Linked DNA regions of Homo sapiens. The protein of the gene in region 1 interacts with the protein of each later gene in a pairwise test. Each region holds a gene or a part of one and is shown on either strand. Other genes may lie near its edges.

Evidence for each region.
Region 2: the proteins of ISOC1 (region 1) and CALCOCO1 interact in binary tests that used the Homo sapiens proteins (3 or more experiments, as listed by UniProt).

Annotation. Positions count from the first base shown.
Region 1 is NC_000005.10:129,090,037-129,097,988, reverse strand, and holds the start of ISOC1 (isochorismatase domain-containing protein 1), read right to left. Parts: upstream 3,241-7,952; 5' UTR 3,223-3,240; coding exon 2,914-3,222; exon of another isoform or gene 2,590-2,913; intron 1,441-2,589; exon of another isoform or gene 1,210-1,440; intron 302-1,209; exon of another isoform or gene 223-301; intron 1-222.
Region 2 is NC_000012.12:53,710,358-53,717,626, reverse strand, and holds part of CALCOCO1 (calcium-binding and coiled-coil domain-containing protein 1), read left to right. Parts: intron 1-1,211; coding exon 1,212-1,367; intron 1,368-1,579; coding exon 1,580-1,834; intron 1,835-2,301; coding exon 2,302-2,427; intron 2,428-2,933; coding exon 2,934-3,029; intron 3,030-3,385; coding exon 3,386-3,494; intron 3,495-3,726; coding exon 3,727-3,926; intron 3,927-4,420; coding exon 4,421-4,527; intron 4,528-4,780; coding exon of another isoform or gene 4,781-4,852; intron 4,853-5,505; coding exon 5,506-5,683; 3' UTR 5,684-7,269. UniProt on the Homo sapiens protein: Functions as a coactivator for aryl hydrocarbon and nuclear receptors (NR). Recruited to promoters through its contact with the N-terminal basic helix-loop-helix-Per-Arnt-Sim (PAS) domain of transcription factors or coactivators, such as NCOA2.

The DNA.
Region 1 (7,952 bases):
GTGCTCTTTGTCCCTGCCTTCAAGAAGGGGCCAACCATCCCCAGTAACATGGACTCACCGATAGGCCACCTTGAGTCTTCCTAAGTGACAAGCATTTATTCCAAAGAACAAGGAGCAGCACCAAGACAAATGAACAAACAAGAGCTCAAGTTTGTGACTTGTTTTCCAGACTGCTCAATTCTCATTAAACATGCAAGCAGTAGTGCTGTGTTCGGCTGTAAGTGACGCTCTGCATATGCCTGGCTAGCTCCTCCACACGCATTTGTGGAGGAGCTAGCCAGGCATATGCGGAGACTTGCCATGTAACCTGCAGCAAGTTACTCACCTCCACCTCCCTATGTTCTTCTGCACTTCCTCAAAGTGAAAGTTCATTTATTAGGTAAGGAACAAGAATTGAATCCAAGTTTGCATTCACTGTGCCAGGCATTTAAAGCTGCCACTCACATGTTGTGGAATGAACTGTATGGTCTCTTACAGCCATAAAACATCCAAGTCTCTAGGATTATGCTGTTAGGTTCCAAAGAATATAGTGTACAGTAGTCATGAGAAATATCATGACTTTCTGAGATTATACACACATATGCATATATATGTATGTGTGTATATATATCTCTCTCTTCTCATATAGACATAAATCGGTATCAGAAGGTATATACGATACACAGTGTGTGCATATTTATGTATCTATCCCCTTCCTTTATCTACCTCTAAGCTAGGAGAGGCATCAGGCTGAAGAAGTCAAAGTATAACTACTAAAATGAGATAATATAGAAGAGAAAATATTTTTAAAGAATTAAAAATATAAAGCTATATAAATGCAAAAATATAACTAATGCTTAAGAATTATTAGACTAGTTGGCGGAAAAATTTCTTCTGAAGAGGGAGTAGAGTAATGCTATTGTTATTTTAAACCTCACCAAAAAAAAGTGAACTATACATAATCTCCTATACCAAGCAAAACACTGCAAAAGCTACAGGTGACCAGAATTATATAACGCCTTTTGAGAATGTACAAGCGTTTTCAGGTACATACATTTCATTAATTTCTAGAATGTTTTTAAGAGTTGCCAGACCAAGGCCCTGAAATTTTCAAATATAAAAATCCTATCTTGGAAGGCGGGGACTCTTACAGAGCTGGGGCCTAGTTTAGAATAGCATTATCTTAGATAAGAGCCCAGCCTCCCTCCAAGCCGTAACAGGAAATGCTTCATAAAGAAGTCTGCATCCTTAGTCCCAGACCTCCGCAGTTAGTATTTGGATTCTAGCCTTTATAAATGGACTTCTCAAAGGTGCATCCAACATCTGAGTATTCTGGCAGCAGTAACGTAAAAGGACTGACAAGGAAGGCTGCAGAGAGGTGTCAGACACGAAAACGCTTGAAGACATAAAAATGAGGAGTCTTAAGCACCTAAGAACTGCAATTCCCTATCTGAGCAGCAGGTAAGATTCTGGGGTATCAGATCACTGTATCCAGTTCCAGGTTCTCCACTGGCAGAGAGTGCAGTCTCTGACTTTGTCCTCTGAATGCAGGAACTTTATCGAAGCTAAAGTACCTGCTTTGGACACTTCTGGCACAGGTGTTGGGGTGACAGGAAACATCATCAATTCAGCTGCCAACTACAGCGGAAAAAAACTAGGGAATAATCCTCAGAAAATGGCACTGTTAATGGGTACAAAAAACACAGATAATAGGAATAAGCTCTAGTGTTCAGTAGCACAATAGCGTGACTATAGTTAACAATAATTTATTGTATATTTCAAAATAACTACAAAAATGAATTTGGAACAAAGAAATAAATGATAAATGTTTCAGGTAATGGATATTCCAATTACCCTGATTTGATCACTACACTGTATGCTTGAATCAAAATATCACGTCTCCTATAAATATGTACAACTATTATGTGCCCATAAAAACTAAAAACAAAAAAGAAAGAAAATGACACTTAAATATTAAAATACCTTTTATCCCCGAATCCCACATTTCAGTTTGGTCTTCTGAAAAAATGACTTATCAGTTTCTCAGCTAAAGAAATGATATCGACAGTGTACTACCTAAATTATACCTTATATTCTTTCCTTTCCAAAATATAAATTCGCCAGTGAACAATCTGATCCTAAAGAGGGCGGAAGATTAACCCGCCTAGCATGAGAGCACAGCTTAAAATAAATGCTGTTAAGTAGTCCTCAGGTAGAACAACTTTCCCAGCCAGCAGGCCCAGGAACTCAAGGTCTAGCTTAAGTTGGGTATTTGTATTCAAGAAGGAATTACAATCATGGAGTCAAATGACTTTTTCAATGCAGACGACAAAACGTAATCAAGTCAGTAGACACTTTACTAAGAGGAGGCTAAGCAAATGGTTATTTGCTTAAGGTTAGGGAACTCTTAAGCCCAAGGACCTGAGAGCCTGGGAAGGCGGGGGGGAATGGGTTTGACTCCCAAAGTTTGCGTTTCCGCAAGTGGTTAACACAACTCTAGGAACAAACCCTAAGACCAATACTCCCCACAATCTCATTTCCCCCCATTCTGCATCACCCATCACCCCAAAATAAAAACAGCTACTACAGCACAGCCCTTTGGTTACGCAGGAGGCTGGGACCTGATCCTGGCATAAAAAGCGGATGCGGGCGACCGAGGACCACACACGTGGGGGCGTTCGCGGGCGCTGAAACCAGCTACGAGGCCCACGCCCCCGCCGGGGACAGCTGGTGACCATCACCTTTGGACAGGGGCATTCCCCAGCCGGCCCCGGAACTTGCGAAAGACGCGCAGCCCTTCGGACTCAGCCACTCGCGCAGGGCCCGGGTCCCGGGCGGCTCGGGGCACCTGAGGAGCGCGGCGAAGGCGGGGACAGGGACGGGGACGGGGACGACTCGGGAACAGGGAAGCGCGCGGCCTCCCGCAGGACCCACCTGGATCTGCAACGGCACGAGGCGCACCTTGCAGCGCTCGCTCACCGCGAAGCCCTTGGGCAAGTCCACGTACTGGCCCCACTCCTCGGCGAACAGCTGCACCACGAATTTGCGGTGCATGTCGATCTGGTCGCCGTACAGGCTGAGGAACTTCTGGATGAGCAGCTCGTAGCCCGCCCCGTGTGGCACCGACGAGGGTCGCGCGAAGACTGAGAAACAGAAGAGCACCGGGACTGTGCCCGACGGCGCCCCCGCGCCCCCGGCGCCGCTGTTGGGGAGCGCAAGGACCGCCGGCTCCGCAGCCGCCATGTTCCCCCGAGCGTCTGCGAGCTCCGAGGCCGCCCAGTCGCACCCAGCCGGCTGCCGCGGCCCCGCCTCCCGGCGATGCCAGCCCGCCCGCCAGCTCGCGGAGGCGAAGGGGCGTGTCCTGACGACCGCTGCTCGCGCGCTCTCTTACCCGCCCCGGAGGGCGGGCCGCGGCGTAAGGGTGGGTGGTGGGGCCGGGGTGCGCGCGTGAGCCAGGGAGCGCCTGCGCTCGCCGGCCGGGTCCGCCCCCTCCAGCTTCCCGGGCCGCTGCGTTCCCGCAGTTCCCCGCTCGCGCCCTTTCTGCCGCGGTTCTGACTGCCGGCAGAACGCCTAGTGGTCTCGCAGACCCAAGACCCGCCTGGGCTGCCCGTTGTTCTTGCCCCGGTGCTGCAGCTCACACAAGGGTTTGTACCACCCTTCCCCTAACGCTGGCCCTCTTCGCGGCTTCGCTCGCCTTCGAATGAGCAGTGTTCTTGGCAGTCTAGGGTTGTGGTTGGGTACACAGAGCCGCCAGGACGAGTTACCTGTTGGCTCTGTGCAGAAGCATGCAGTCCTCCTCGAGATGGCAGTGGTATCTTACAACCAAAGGGACAGTCCGATAGATACCCTAAGAAGAGCAGCAGAATTTAATCCTTAGAGGGCCAGTCAAGGTTCAAGTTTTGTCTTTTTTCGGTCCCACAGAACACAATATCTCTAGGAATGGATTTGATATCTGGCCTCCCTTCATCTCAACCTATTTCTGGGAGGACTTGGATTTGGGAATATAAATACTATTAAAAGCAAAAATCTGAACTTTATATTGAAACTAAGGATATCTGTTTTTAAGTAAGTAAAAGGGATCACTTTCAAATAAAACAATCCTCTGCCTTCTGCACACTGTAAGGCGCTATAATTAACTGGAATTAGAAAGCATGCATTATGAACAGAATTTCCTTGGAATTGAGTCCTGCGAAGATAGGCATGGGCCTAAACATAAAATTAGATTTTAGGTATTAAAGCTGTCCTCTTCTAAGAAAATAACCTTTAAAGCAGGGTTTCCCAACTGACACTGTTGACTTCTGGAATGGACATTTCTCTTTCTTGGGGATGGGGCATCTTGTGCATTTGCAGGATATTTAGCAGCATCACCGGCTTCTACTCCCGCTAGATGCCTAGTGACCGCTCCTCCCTCTAGTTATGGCAATCAAAAATGTTTCCAGACATTGCCAAATATTCCCCAGAGGGCAAATATACCCCCTACTTGAGAACCACACTGCTTTAAAGTTATGAAAAGACCATCCTTTGGTGTTTCTTGCTCAATTGTACCGAAGCTACTAGAAATAGCCATTTTTTTCTGGTTCTCATCACACTTTGAGAGATCCCATTTAAAAGTGTTGTCTGAACCCGTCAGACCCAAAATGATATTTTTTTCCGGATACCACTCCATTGCAAGGTCTTCTATATGCAGATATGCTGATTTGTGCTAATAAGTGTACCCCCTCAAGACCTGATTACCAAAAGGTACCTACCTATTTTGGGTGGACTAATAAAAGTGTTCCTTCCACCCTGTAAAGCCTCCTAACACAGAGTAGGTTGGAGATTAGAGATTGGCCTAGACTTCAGACATCCTCAGCGAGGACCTTGGCATCTACACAGTCTTCTGCCGTGGCCCTCATGGCCGTGAGTCAACATACTTCATTTCCCTTTCATGTTTTTAAATTAGGTTTCTGACCCTTCAGTAAGGAAATCAACTTCCATATATATTGTGCTGTCTGAGATTGGTCCTTGACAACCTAGTTTAATGGTGCAATCATTGTGGTAATAGCATGTTAAATAACATTAATAAAATAGATATTTGATGGGCACATTTACCATTTATTGAATATCAACTGTGTATCAACCTCTGCATCACTGGGCTGCAAAAGGGAGGTGAATGCACATTTCAGTGATAAATTATTATCCTCAGAAATACAATTATTAAGATAATTTTTATAAATGTTACCAGAAAAAGTGAGTAAGACCCCATAAATGAATATTCAAATGACAAGTAGAAAATAACTGTTCTAATTGACAAGATCATATTATGGACCAAATGCCCAAAATTTTCTCATATAGGACTCTCAGTAGCTTTATTAGTTAATGTTAAATGCTTACTTTTAGAATCTAAATTCCAAGAAAATCAAGAAGGTATATTACACAGTATTGATTAATACATTAATATGCTACAGAAACAAACCCCAAAATCTCAATAGACTGATAAAACAAAGGCTTATTTCTCACCTTTCCCAGTTAACAGCAACATTTGACAAACCAATTACTCCCTTTATTTTGAACCATATTCACTTTGTCTTTGGGATACCACTCTCTCTTATTTCTCCTTCCACCTCACTTCAAGCTCGTTTCCTATGTTCCTCTCATTCCCCAAACCTCTATAAATACAAGTATACCAGAGCTCAGTCCTCACATCTATTATCCTAAGACTGTGGCTTTAAATATCACCCATATACCTTTGACTTCCAAATTTTTAACATCCAGGCCCTCACTCTGCACTCCATACTCATACACAAGTGCCTATTCGACATCTCCACTTGGATATTCAATAGATACCTCACATTTAAATGTACTAACAGAACTCTTAGTTTTCTTCTGTCCTCGAATATTTTCTCTCCCCTGTTGATATCTAGGCAAATGGCAACCCCGTTTTAGTAACTGAGTACAATAACCAGGGGTTTATCCTTTAATTTACTCCTCTTTCTGTCCTTGTCCAGTCTATCAGCAAGACCTGGTGGTCAGAACCAAATTCCTCTCATTCACACCAGTGCCACCACCTAAGACAAAACCACTGTCGTCTTCCATCTAACTGTAACTCATCATAAGTTGTGCCCAATATTTGACTTTTGTATCCCTATTTATCCATTTACCTCATTTACATAGACTTTTATACTCCATTTACCACACGGCTATTAGAGTGGCACTTTTTCAAAAACATAAATTTAGAGCGTGTCACTGCTGTGTTCAGAATCCTCCAGTATATAAAAATAGACCTCAAGACAATCTAGATGTTAGGATTAAGAGAAAAAGAACTTTAAAGAAGTTGTTACAAGTATATTCAAGGTCTTAAAAGAAAGGGTAGCCATAAGACTGAGCAGATAGGGAATACCAGCAGGGAGATGGAGATGACTGAAAACATAGCCAAATGTCACTTTTCAAGCTAAAAGTGCAATGTCTGGAGTGAAATGCTCACTGGGTAATCTAAACTTCAGATTATAGGTTCCAGAAGAAATGATTAGTGAAATTGCATGCAGAGTACTAGAAATTATCCAATGTGAAGAACAGGAAGAGATTGAAAAAAGTATGATGACAGTTTTAGTAACCTGGAGGGCAATATCAAATGATCTAATATGTAGTTGGAGTCCAAGAGGGAGAGATGAGACAAGAATGGAACAGAAAGAATATTGGAAGAAATAATAGCCAAAATAGCACTGTCTATTAAGTCTTCAGTGTGCTGATTTTTATCTCAGAGTCTGCTTTCCAGGGAAATCAACCTGTGACATTTGTTGCTAGGAAAGATGAAAGGAGGCCAATGTGGATGGATTTTGGAGCTGGGTCACCCACTGTTGGGCAGATAATGAATACCTAACCACTAATATCTGTGGAGCACAGATAGCCCCTGGCAGTTTTTTTAAACTTCCAGCAAGATGAACTAGAATCATATACTACTGGAAAGGAATGCCTTCACTGTAATTAAGAATTTGAAAAATATGGAGGAAATACTAATTATAAGAATAAAGGAATTGAATGACAGTTTCAAAGTTTGATTGATGCTCTAGAAAAAGACCAAAAAAAAGATAGTTGGCAACTAAAAGCTAAGTGTGAAGGCTGGAAGAACTTTTTGGCAGCATTGAGTCTCTCAGTTCCTGCAATAAGAAGAGAGAGAAAGCTGAGGACCAAGACTAGGACTGAAGGTAGCAGAGCTCCAAAGAAGGTTAAACTCTTAAAAAATGCATATTTTCTATGCCAAGGTCAGGACTCTGGTTGAGAAATGGGACCGTGACACATGGGATAAAGTTGATGACACTGAAAATTATGAGTCCTTCGATTCTTTTAATTGATCTGGTCTTTAGAAATGACTTACTCTTTTCTTAATGACTAGCATTCCCTCATTTCTTGAAGGCAATGCAAAGCCTTTTCTCTAGCAAGACATTAGCTTTCCCAGGCTCTTCCCTCTCCTTCCCTCCTGATACCTATATCCATAAGTAGGCTTAATTAACAGTAAAATCTGGCCACAGATATGTTGGGCCTGAAAAAGAAGGAATATATCCAAGAGCAGCTACAGAATCTAATAACCAGCATATACCATCAGGAGCAGAGAGATTATGCACAGCACTGGATTTGGAGGGTGTGTGATCGAGGATGTGGAACAAAAAAGTTTCTCGGTTAGGAAACACCATATTAGGATAGAGGATTTAACACCCTAGTAAGGTTCTTGGGAGATGGTCTGAACACAGTGCTTCTAAGGCTGCTCTTAAATGGGCCATAAATTTACAACCTTACCCCAAGGCTATGTTAACTGTCCTGCCGTCTATTACAATATACTCTGAAGAGATATAAGTTAGCTGGACATCCTGCAGAATATCACCTTCATTCACTGTATCAATAACATCATGCAGATTGAACAAGATGAACAAAAAGTGACTATTCATTGAAGGCCTTGGTAAGACACAAGTGTTCCAGAGGGGAGTGATAACCTCTAA
Region 2 (7,269 bases), on another chromosome or scaffold:
TTGTTAAAAAACCCTTTGCTCAGCAGTGAGAATAGGTAGAATATGAGTAGACAGAGATGAGTGTGAGGCTATTCTAGGAACAGAGAAAGACGTGAGCAAAGGCTTAAAGGCCAGAACACTCAGGGCAGTTGAATGTGCGGGTGAAGTGTTTGAGATAAGGCCTAGGTTAGACTGTGGTGGATCTTGAGCTTCATTTTTATTCCACAAGCGTGAAAGGCTTTGATGATTTTTCAAGCAGGGGTGACGTGTACTGTACTTATGGCCAGGTGTAGTGGCCCACGCCTGTAATCCCAACATTTTGGGAGGTGAAGGCAGGAGGATCCCTCGAGCTCAGGAGTTCAAGACAAGCCTGGGCAACATAGTGAGACCCTGTCTCATCTCTACAAAAAAATACAAAAATTAGGCAGGCGTGGTGGCACACACCTATAATCCCAGCTACTGGGGAGGCTGAGTTGAGACAATTGCTTAAGCCCAGGAGTTGGAGGCTGCAGTGAGCTGTGACCATGCTACTTCACTCCAGTCTTGGCGACAGAGCCAGACCCTATCTCTAAAAAAGAAAATAACTGTATTTAAAGAATCAGAACTGTACCTAAAGAAGAATAATCTGATTCCCTTGTGGAGAATGAACTATTTATGAAGTTATTCAGTAGTCCAAGCAAGAAATGACCAGAGTCTGAGATAACGTGGTTGTGGTGGTAATAGAGAAGGGAAAATGGCTGTGACCAGGATGGAGAAGCAATAGGTTTTTCTGTGGGCCGCTAGGGAGAGGACAGAGCCAAGCATGGCACCAAGGGCACCAGGTTACTCCATCCTGAGTAACGTGGGAGCTAGTTGGTACCCTGGACGGAAATAAGAGTAGGAAAGACTGGGATGGGGTGAGAGGTAGACTGTTGAGTTTAAGGGGCCTGTAGGGCATGAAGACTGAGTTTTGATTTAAGAGAAAGAATAGAGTAGCAGAAATGGTACATGGAATGCCTACACAGAAGACCCAAGGCTGCGATGCTGGATACCTCAATTTGGGAGCTGGAGACTGGATATGCAGGATTGAGTTATTTGAGCTGAGAACCCAAGAAGGGCTGGCAATAGCTGAAGGCTTGAGTGTGTGTTAAATCTGAGAAGTGGAACCTTGACCTCTCTCATCACAATGGTTCACCTCCCGAGCCACCCCAACACACATACCCCTTTCCTTACCTGCTTTCCACTTCCCTCAGGCTGAGCTCCAAGTGGCACAACAGGAGAACCATCACTTAAATTTGGACCTGAAGGAGGCGAAGAGCTGGCAAGAGGAGCAGAGTGCTCAGGCTCAGCGACTGAAAGACAAGGTGGCCCAGATGAAGGACACCCTAGGCCAGGCCCAGCAGCGGGTGGTGAGTGAGGCCCCTTGGCAACAGGAAACGGGAAATTCCAAGGGCAAGTTGTAGAGAAGCCTGCGTGTCTAAAGAGAAGGGGAGAGACATGGCTAAAGACTAAACAACACAACCCCGAGTCCTAATGCAGTGGAGTGGAGGGAGCGTTTACCTCCCTGGCTGATGAATGATTCACTAGGAACTCTGATCTCCATCTCCTCCTTTCTCCTGAGGCCGAGCTGGAGCCCTTGAAGGAGCAGCTTCGAGGGGCCCAGGAGCTTGCAGCCTCAAGCCAGCAGAAAGCCACCCTTCTTGGGGAGGAGTTGGCCAGTGCAGCAGCAGCCAGGGACCGCACCATAGCCGAACTACACCGCAGCCGCCTGGAAGTGGCTGAAGTTAACGGCAGGCTGGCTGAGCTCGGTTTGCACTTGAAGGAAGAAAAATGCCAATGGAGCAAGGAGCGGGCAGGGCTGCTGCAGAGTGTGGAGGTAGAGGGATGGGGGGTACCTGGCAATCTGATGGCCACTGCCCCCACCTCTGTGGGGACTCCTACATGTGGTCAGACCCTCTGGGAGGAGAGAAGAGGGGTTGAGAACCTTAGAGGACTTGGGTGGAGAGGGGCTTTGAGGGAGGTACACTTTACTTTCTAGGCATGACCCATCCCTAACCGGGGTATCCCAATCCTGATCACCAGAGTACCTTCCTTGGAACAGAAACATTTTCTGTCCTAGACCCCAGGCCCTGCCATAATGCCCATTCCTGATCAAGCAGCACCTGCCGTCATGTCCTGTCCTTCATTCAGAGGGTATAGGAAATGAAGGCAAAAAGGGGAAAGTGCTCTAAAAATGATGCTTTAAATAAAGGAAAGGACACAGTAAGGGATGGTGCTGTTGACAGTGGCGTTCCTTTTTCTTCCCCCTCCACCCTCCCATTTTCCTTCTTGGCTATCTCTCAGGCAGAGAAGGACAAGATCCTGAAGCTGAGTGCAGAGATACTTCGATTGGAGAAGGCAGTTCAGGAGGAGAGGACCCAAAACCAAGTGTTCAAGACTGAGCTGGCCCGGGAGAAGGATTCTAGCCTGGTGAGGCATCCAGCCACCAAGGGTCCTGTCCTATGGCCTCCTGAGGCATCCATACCCCTTCTCTCTGTCTTGGGTATGGGCTCAGAAGTGCTAGGTGTCCACTACCATGTTGGGTGGCATTTCACTTGCACACGCAAGCCCTCATTGGTTTGAAATGTGCATTTTTTTCTGCTCTCAGGGCACACATCTGGGCCCAGTAGAGGTGACTTAGGAGAATTATAGAGTGGCCCCTTGGTATGACCAAGGCCTCTGCACCCCAGCCTAGAGGAAGTCATGCAGGTCCCCACTCGAGAGGCAGAGACTAAGACTTAGAAAACTGAGTATCTGTGGCCCAAGACAAAGTACTCATGGAGGAAGTGTTGGGAATTCCTGTGTGTGTGTGTCAGAGCAGGGAAGAAGCAGAGGCATGGGGAGACCTGGTTCTAGATTGTTGGTCCTGGTCCCAGAGTCCAGGTTCTTGGAGGTACATTCTAGGCTCCAGATTCCATTGGGCCCTCTTCCCTCAGGTACAGTTGTCAGAAAGTAAGCGGGAGCTGACAGAGCTGCGGTCAGCCCTGCGTGTGCTCCAGAAGGAAAAGGAGCAGTTACAGGAGGAGAAACAGGTGAGCACCCATAACCCAGGCCCCGTGGATGCCACAGGTGAGGACTTGAGGGCTAGAAACTTTGTAAATTCCTGTCATCTCTTGGCTTAGAAACTGTTCTCTCCAAGAGGGCCCGTACCCTGGCTTCTCTTATTAGCTGATTTGGCAGGACAGCGGATGATCTCTGGGAGAAGGGAGGGATGTAAGTGGTGAAGCAGGGGTGCTGGGGGGAGTGTCTGCCTGAAGTTGCCCCAATCTTTGCTGAAGGCATCTAATGCTGAGGAGCTAAGAGTTCTTCTTGGGTGCAGCTTCTGCAGGCTAGCAAGGTTGGCACCTTCCCATTCTCTAGCACCTGCCTTTTTCCTTCCCAATTCCAGGAATTGCTAGAGTACATGAGAAAGCTAGAGGCCCGCCTGGAGAAGGTGGCAGATGAGAAGTGGAATGAGGATGCCACCACAGAGGATGAGGAGGCCGCTGTGGGGCTGAGTCCGTGTAGCCCCAATCTTGTAACACCTCTTCCCCACTCTACCTCCCGCTGTTGAGGAAGGCTCCATGTAACCTTGCTGGGAGCTGCCTTTGCCTTCTATGTGTTTTGCCTTTTCTTTCCCAGACCCTGGCCCCTGTTTAGTCTAATGATACCCCTCATCCAGAGGAGACAGCTGGTCCAACTCCTCACAACACATCCTTTTTTCTTCTCTGCCTGCTTCATCTCCTACAGGCTGCCCGGCAGCTCTGACAGACTCAGAGGACGAGTCCCCAGAAGACATGAGGCTCCCACCCTATGGCCTTTGTGAGCGTGGAGACCCAGGCTCCTCTCCTGCTGGGCCTCGAGAGGCTTCTCCCCTTGTTGTCATCAGCCAGCCGGCTCCCATTTCTCCTCACCTCTCTGGGCCAGCTGAGGACAGTAGCTCTGACTCGGTGAGCAGTGGAGGAGCCTGTGCAGAAGCAGTAAGGAGGGGCAGGGCCAAACCCAAGTGTCCCAGCCTGGAGTGCAGCACGATCTTGGCTCACTGCAGCCTCTGCCTCCTGGGCTGAAGCGATCCTCCCACCTCAGTCTCCCAAGAGTAGCTGGGACCACAGGCAGGCACCCCCGGCTAATTAGAGAAGGAATCTTAGCTATCCAGGGCTCTCTTTTTCCCAGGGGAGAGGAGGCAGGCCCAGCCTCTCTTCAGTGCCACACCAGTAGATATCATCCCAAAACCCAGACCAGCCCAATAGCCTCACTGCTTCTCCCCCACAGTCATTCTCTTATTATTCACCAGCCCCTCAAAACGCCTCTCCTGCCTCACTCTTCCTAAGCCCCTCAGGTCACTGTCCTAGCCTTGGCTGCTCTTCCCATACCTGTCCCAATGTGCTGCTCCCCCATCTTGGGACACCACCCCAAAGCCCAACCCTGTCTCTTTGGCATCCAGGAGGCTGAAGATGAGAAGTCAGTCCTGATGGCAGCTGTGCAGAGTGGGGGTGAGGAGGCCAACTTACTGCTTCCTGAACTGGGCAGTGCCTTCTATGACATGGCCAGGTGAGTTCAACCAGCAAGGCCAGGAGGGAGGTGGGAGGAGGTCAGAGGGAAAGGGCATCTGTGTGGACAGTCACCAGGCCCTGCTCCCAACCCCTGCCCTTCTTGGCCTCAGCCAAGAAAAGGAGATACAGGTATGGTTAACAAGGAAAATGACTCACTGCTCCAAATCCCAGATGCCTTCAGGTAATCCCTACCCCTATCTTATCAATGCACTCAGAGGTCCTGCCTTTAACTGGCTTCTATGTTGTTCTAGCACCATCTTCTGCAGAGCCCAAATTGCCCTGCTTCCCCTCTCTCCTGCCTCTACCCCTTCCCCAACCACCAGGTAGGTACCTAGGGTCCTCCGGGGAGGAAGGGAGGTGACCATGGCCCCCAGGGATAGGAGCAGAGAGAAGACTGGGATCCAGCATCCATCTGGCTACAACTGAAATGCTTTCCCTCTTCCCTGACTTCCCTGGGTAACCCTTAGGGAAGGGAACCTATAGAGGTGGGGGTTTCAGGTATCAGATTGTCCCCTTCTGCCTTCCCTTTTATTCCCAGGTTCAAGGGGGCAGGCACAGGGAAGAGAGATTTGATCATCTAGTCCCGGTTTTGCCTGGATGTGAGATGGGCTCAGGGCAGGGAGGGGGTGATGCTGTCATCCTTCTCGGCTGGAGCAGGAAGATGAAGGACGATGTCAGACTCATTTTCAGCCTCATTAGGCAGCAGACGGAGATGGAGGGAGGAGAGCAGGAGGCTGGGGGATGGGCTCTGCACTGCAGAGACCAGCAGGGACTAAAGAAGAGAGGACATGGGGAACTGGAAAAATAAGCCTTCCAGGATTGTGGGGAGAAAGACGCTGTGGGAGAGGCCAGGATGCTGCATTAGGCACAGGATAACCTGGGAACCCAGGCACATGGGTCCTGCTCTCCGAAGTCTGCAAGTCAAGAAGGGAACAGAGCACGCCGACCCTCTCCCTTTCCCCTCTGTCTCTCTTAGTGGCTTTACAGTGGGTACCCTGTCAGAAACCAGCACTGGGGGCCCTGCCACCCCCACATGGAAGGAGTGTCCTATCTGTAAGGAGCGCTTTCCTGCTGAGAGTGACAAGGATGCCCTGGAGGACCACATGGATGGACACTTCTTTTTCAGCACCCAGGACCCCTTCACCTTTGAGTGATCTTACTCCCTCGTACATGCACAAATACACACTCATGCACACACACACTCACACACATGCATACACTTAGGTTTCATGCCCATTTTCTATCACACTGGGCTCCATGATATTCTGTTCCCTAAGAACTGCTTCTGTGTGCCCTGTTTTCATCCCAAGATTTCTCACTTCATCCTCTCCTACCTGGCTCTTTTGTCCCAGGGAGGGGTCCTGTTCGGAAGCAGTGGCTGAATTTATCCCCTGAAAGTGGTTTTGGAGGAACCGGGATGGAGGAGGCCTTCCCCTGTGGGAATAGAATCGTCCACTCCTAGCCCTGGTTGCTTCTGATACACAGCCACTGCACACACACACTCACACTCACACTCCCTTGTCTGATGCCCCAAAGCCAATTCCTGGGGCACCCTACCCTCTCTTATTTGGAGTTTCCGTTGGTTTACCTGAGTTTTCTCTGGGGTCTGCACAGAGGCAGCAGCATGGACATCATGGCCTCTCAGGTCCCTTTTGGTTCTCAGTTTCATTGGTTCCTCTTTCTGTTCCCCCATTGACTTCTGTGCCCCACCCTAGCCTTTTCCATAACCTTAGGTATTCAGTTTGGAGGGGTTTTTTGTATTTTTGAGGATTCCTGTATTCTGTATCCTCTCCTCGCATCTCCTCACATGGAAAGAAATAATGTATTTGTGCCTTCTGTGAGGAATGGGGGGAACAAGTGGTCCCAGGTATCCCCATTTCCAAGGCCCCCCTCCCTCTCCAGGTCCCCCCACAGCAATAAAAGCTTCCCCCTGATATCCATCCCTTTGTAGTTTGAACAAATATATTTATATGATATGTATGACTGTTGTCACAAAATGTGTTCTTATCATGAGGTGTGACTGGAACACAGGGCCCAGACCTCCAGCTCTTAGACCCTGGTGGAGGGAGGAGGGAAAGAGGGGACGCATCCCTGCCTCATGGCAGGGGATGCTGGGCAGTTACTGTCCTGTCGTGCCTCCTGGTGTGCTGGCCATGAGTGGGTTGTCTCAAGTGGGAGTCTGGCTTGGATAATGCGGCAGTTGGGGAGGGAGCAAACTCATGGGTCCCTGTCACTTCTGCTCAGGGTTTAGTCCCAGGGTGGGTGCATGCCATGGAAAAGTGGGACAAGTTTCCCACTGCCGAGAACTTCACCCTTCATAGCAGCCATCACTGTACCTTATGCCAAAGGACAGGCTTTATTCCTGTCAAGAGCGTACACCTTTGAGTATCTACTTAGTAAAAAATGCCCTAAGCCTCATACCTCTAAAGGCGATTTTATATTCCTCCTGTTTCTGTTTCTGTTTCTTTCTCTGTTGCCATCCCCTCATACCTGTATGCACACTCTGCCTCAACAGTCACAAAAACACATTCATCCACTCTAACCAGCTTCACAGGCTAGACAGACACATACACAGCATCGTAAAGCATTTGTTAAGGACCTGCACGCTCACCAAGGCTCTCAGCAATGGCCTGCACAAGCACATGCCTACAACCCCCTCGTCCTCCAACCCAATAGCTCCCTTCTCAGCTGCCCTCCTCTCCCTTCAGGGCCCCTGTGTGGACCACCCCCACCATTCCCT